Linked DNA regions of Homo sapiens: region 1 is linked to region 2. Evidence: fine-mapped expression QTL. A gene starts in region 2. The other region holds a variant in brackets. All regions are shown on one strand. Distances are between the middles of the regions.

Region 1 (3,040 bases), 42 kb after region 2:
CTATAATGAACTCAATGATCAAGGATTGAAGGTAGTAGAATTATGGGAAATGTCACATAAGTAGAGAGATATGGGAAATTTTAGATAAAATTGAACATTTATGGGAATTATGGGAAATGTAACATAAGTAGGGAGATATGGGAAATTTTAGATAAAATTTAACATTTTATCGAAATGTTAGATTTGGCCTACTATAATGAACTCAATGGTGAAGGATTGAAGGCAGTGGAACCTATTCCTCATACGTCTCATGCACTGCACCCCTATACCTTTGCTTTTCCTGTTTTAAGTGTCTTTTATGTTTATTTTATAGTTTGTCCAAATTGGGATCTTAACATTCCACTTGGTTGGTTTGCAGTTTTTGGTTCAACTTTTCCTTTCCTACTTCTTTTTTTAACTTAAAATTTGAGAATAAGTTTTTTTTTTCCACATTTCGAACTTTTCTAATTGCAGCCCTGTGATAACATTTAAAATGTCATCTGATAGTTTTTAATGTTTTTACTGTAAACCTGGGTTTGCTGTAAACCATTAGTGATATCTAGAGATTTGATTAGATTTTAGGTTTTTTTTTTAGGTTTTTCTTTTTGGCCAAAAACTTCATAAGTGGCTTGTACTTCTTTCTGCATCCTCTCAGGAGGCACACAAGGCTGGTTGTCTTTTTCTTTTTCTTTCTTTCCTTTTTTTTTTTTTTGTCTGGCTCTGCTGCCTAGGCTGAGGTGCAGTGGCACAAGCATGGCTTACTGCAGCCTTGACCTCCTAGGTTCAAGGGATCCGCCCACCTCAGCCTCCTCAGCCGGAGTAGCTACCACTACACCTGGCTTATTTTTTAAGTTTTTTGTAGAGATTGGGTTTTGCCATGTTGCCCAGGCTGGTCTGGAACTCCTGAGCTCAAGCAATCTGCCTGCCTCGGCCTCCCAAAATGCTGGGATTACAGGTGTGAGCCACTGTGCCTGGCCTGGTTGTCTTTTATACATTAAGACTCATCAGTGGGTTCGTATGTTGTCAGCTGATTCATTCAACAGAAAGTTCCCCTGTCAGCTTTTCACCTGCTGATTTTAGCAGTTATTAATGATCACTCATTGCCTAAATCCATCATTCAGAGGGGTGGTAAAGTAGCGATATTCTACATCTATCATGCCTTCTACATTTATTAGCTGGAATTTGTCTAAAAAGGACTTTCCCATATCAACTGTTTAGTTACTCTTATGTACAATTCATGTAGAAAAGACAGGATAAATGCTTGTATCTTTTTCTTTATTAATTTTCAGATGAGTTGGTTTAGCTTTCTCCAAATGTAATCAAGAGCCTTAAAGAGATTGAAACTCTTTAATGTGATTTGGCCTAGCCCAGCGCTAAATGTAGCCTAGTACTTAATATTGTTTTGTAATTCTTCTGGTTGATTTTTTTATTGATTGATTTCCAAAGAGAGGTGCCATTGGACCAGATCTTATAAAAATAACTTGGATAATCTGAGAGGTTCGTCATTCTTTTGTGAGTGTGTGTGTGTACAAATATTATATGCATATATATTTCAAATATATCTTAAACTTTTATCTGTAAGACTTTACCTAATTCATACTACCAGTTTCTATGCTTCCTTAAGATTTTGAGTGTATCTTGGATAAAAGAAAAAAACCTCTTCCGTATGGAAGCCATAATATAGCATTGGGACAACTACCAGAAATGCCCTGGGAATCAAATATCGAAATAGTTGGATCAAGGCTGCCACCAGGGGCTGAAAGGTAATTTATTTCTTAGTTTTAGATTGTATTAATATCTAAATGTTAAATTTGGTGTACTATACTGAAGTCAGTGATCAAGGATTGAAG[G/C]TAGTGGAATCTGTTCCTCATATGTCATGCATTCCACCTTTGTAACTTTGCTTTTCCTCTCCTTTCTGCTTTAATGTTCTCCCTTCTTCTGTCCAAAGCCTAGCAATCTCCCTAACTAAAGTGCTAAAAGAATTGTCCTCCACTGGAAGTAAAATAGTATCTTCTTTTGCGCTCCCATACCTCTCTACTTTTCTCATAGCACTTAGCCACTTCCTACACTGCATTACAGTAACTTACTATACATCATGTGTTCTCTGTTAGACTATAAGCTGTGTTGCTTCATATTTGTACCCCTCACAGTGGTTTACATGTAGTAGGCATGTGTAAATATATATTGGACCAAAAAAATGGATGAAAGCAGACAAATATTTACAATAATTTTGTGTAACTAAATAGGTTTGTCATCAATTACTAATTTCTTAGTAGAAACATAACTTGATATACTCATTTATATTCATTGGCTTTTGTTAGTTTATAAAGATGCAATCTTGTTTCTGAAAAGCTTGTAATTATTCAGTTTCTTATTCTGATTTTAGGAGTAAATATTTTTTTATTTTATGTAGGATTGCTTTGGAATTTTTGGATTCAAAAGCACTTTGTAGAAATATCCCTCACATGAAAGGAAAATCTGCTATGAAAAAACGACATTTGGAAATTCTGGGGTATCGTGTAATTCAGGTATGAAATACTCATGTAATTCAGCCTCTAAAAAGCCCAGAGACACTAGCTGTACATGTGCTTCCTTTTAATGTGAAAGTTCCAGAATTACCTTTTTAAATATATTTTTTAAAATGTATCACTCAAACAGGCCAGATACAATAGCTCATGCCTGTAGCTACTTGGGTGGCTGAGGTGGGAGGATTGCTTGATCCTAGGAGATTGAGGCTGCAGTGAGCCGTGATCATCCCACTGCACTCCAGCCTGGGTGACAGAGCAAGACCCTGTCTCATAAAAATAAATAAATAAAAGTTGTCATTTATTTTATTGTCTTTAGAATATCCATATCTTATGATTTCTATATCTTACAAAGGAGAGAGGCACTGTAGAGATGGATAGAGTTATCAGAGGAAACAACTAGGTATGAATATAGAAGACTATGTAGGAAAAAATGTCCATCATTGGTATTGTAGGAAAAGGAGGATGAAAGGAGCAGAAAAAAGTATTCTAGGCAATGTCAGAAGGACCCACTTGGCTTCCAGTAGAGGTTCACA
Region 2 (2,500 bases):
GCGGTTTTATGGAATAGAAAAGGGGGAAAGGTGGGGAAAAGATTGAGAAATCGGAAAGTTGCTGTGTCTGTGTAGAAAGAAGTAGACATGGGAGACTTTTCATTTTGTTCTGTACTAAGAAAAATTCTTATCCTGTTGATCTATGACCTTACCCCCAACCCTGTGCTCTCTGAAACATGTGCTGTGTCCACTCAGGGTTAAATGGATTAAGGGCGGTGCAAGATGTGCTTTGTTAAACAGATGGTTGAAGGCAGCATGCTCCTTAAGAGTCATCACCACTCCCTAATCTCAAGTACTCAGGGACACAAACACTGCAGAAGGCCGCAGGGTCCTCTGCCTAGGAAAACCAGAGACCTTTGTTCACTTGTTTATCTGCTGACCTTCCCTCCACTATTGTCCTACGACCCTGCCAAATCCCCCTCTGCGAGAAACACCCAAGAATGATCAATAAAAAAAATAAATAAATAAAATAAAAAAAAGAAAGTTGCACAGCATATTCCAACAAATATCAGTTTGGTACCTTTAGAGCCTTACTTTGTTGTAGTGATTATCAGCTGAAAATTATGTCTGTTGTAACTTTGGTAAGCATTCCACTTTGGTTATTTATTAGTGGTATTTTTTTTTTAAGTGTCAAGTGTCAAATCTTGGGACTATTAAAATACCATGGTAAGTAAAAAAAAAATATGGTCTGAGAACTGGTACCTATCCACGACATAAGTGCAGAAACTGAGAGTATGAGTTTGCATACTTTCAAAGTTACTCGACAGAGTTATTTCGTATATGCTAAAAAATAATAAGAAAAATCTGTACGTGTCTTTTCCATGTTTACATTTTTAAATTTCATTTTCCTAAGTATATTTTTGTGTATATTATAAAAGTAGTAGACTTCCAAGGACTAGGAGAACAACCTTAGATAGTAGAGAATCACCTAAACGACCTATATCTTCTTCAACAGCTTAAGCTGTGTACTGCGCTAGAGCCTCCCTCAATGAGGAACTACAATGCCCAGAATTCCCCCAAAATGCGTGAGCGACGTCCATTTCACCCACCTCGCCGCGACCCACCCTGGGATATGTAGTGCGTGACTTCCGCAGTGCACGCTGCGCCTGCCGGGCATTTTTTCCTGGTTTGGGGGCAAGGTCTCATGGGAAAGGTCATGTCTCTCGAAGAAAGGTTATAAACCCTGAGATATGAGGGTTGGGCGAGACATCCGAGCCTGTTTCGTTCCGTGTTGGGACCAGGAATAACCCTGACTTCTGAGCTTTCATAACCCCAGGATCCTCCAGAAAATTTGCGGCGCGCTGAGGGAAAACCTTGCTGGCAAGTCGGGACTGTGTGGCAGCGGCTATTTTTCTTTTCCCACCCAGCACGTTTTCGGGCTGGGGACATAGGGTTCAGTTGAGATACGGAGGCTTCCTTCGGGATATTGGGTTCTCTGAAGTGCGGATGGACTAGGGCAGGGCTGAGACCCCATTCATTCACTCATTTGTTTAGCTCTCCTTTATGCCCGGCGCAGAAGATACCCCTTAGGGTCCCAAGGCCCTTCCTGTAGTTAAGTTCCTTCCTTAAGGTCATTCAGCTGGGGCAAAGCTGGGGACTCGACACCTTTCTATGCTAACCATTGAGCTGCCTCCACTTTGAGCAGCTCAGTGGATGAATATAGTATCTTGAGGATACCTTTGATTTGTGCAGGGTTTTCTTGTGCAGGTTTGTGACCCAGGTCAGCTTAGGTCAGGATGCTGTACTGCTTGCCACAAAATAGCCTGTACTGTCGCGTCGTTTTTTCTTGTGAACAGACTGTTTGGCATAGCCGTAGAGAGGGGTCTGAGACATGAATTTAGTGATACAGCGTTGATTTGTTTGTGTAATGAAGCTGTTCAAGTGGAAAGAACTGAGTTGTAGTCCCTGCTTCACTAGTACTAGAAGGATTTTTTAAACCTTTTTGAACCTATTTTGCCTTATCTGTAAAATGGAAATAATATCAACCTGGAAGGTTAGCTGAGAGAATTTAATGAGATAATGTGTTTCAAACGTTCTTTGTAAATGGTAACATGTTGCAGAAATATTAGATTATATGACTTTAGTCCCTGCTTTTCTAACCATTACTTCTCAATTATAAATGTAAACATTTATAGCATATTTTTAAAACAAATTATTCTTTTTTCATAATTATCTTTAGTTCTTTTATTGTTTCAGCATGACTTGAAACATTACTTAATTTCTTAGTATTTCTTGATTGGTGCTTTAATTGTGTCGTTCATTGGTTAAAACCTATCCAAGGCCAGTAATGATTAAATTATATGACTTCTTTTATTTATTTATTTTCTAAAGAAAGGAATTATTTGAGCTCTTTAAGGGCACAAGAAAAAGGGGCAAGAAATTATCCTGAAAGCAAATAAACCTGAGACCATACTTCTGAAAAATTAAAAAAAAAAAGTATATATATATGTATGTATAAATATATATGGCTCTGAATTAATGCCTACACTTTTTAGAAACT

The links. PIP is the estimated chance that this variant, and not a neighbour inherited with it, causes the effect.
Region 1: its variant is the best candidate, but not a certain one, in a credible set for the expression of FASTKD1 in whole blood (TOPMed, PIP 0.63).

The regions. Positions count from the first base shown.
Region 1 is chr2:169,530,054-169,533,093 of GRCh38, reverse strand. FASTKD1 (FAST kinase domains 1) reads left to right here. Exons shown (of 15, transcript NM_024622.6): 13 at 1,604-1,742; 14 at 2,393-2,507. Among named protein-coding and RNA genes, the nearest start is that of KLHL41, 22 kb to the right of the region's middle. The variant G/C (reference allele first, on the strand shown) is at 1,830.
Region 2 is chr2:169,572,489-169,574,988 of GRCh38, reverse strand. FASTKD1 (FAST kinase domains 1) reads left to right here and starts at 1,124. Exons shown (of 15, transcript NM_024622.6): 1 at 1,124-1,320. RefSeq lists enhancers at 913-1,012, 915-1,517, 1,373-1,542.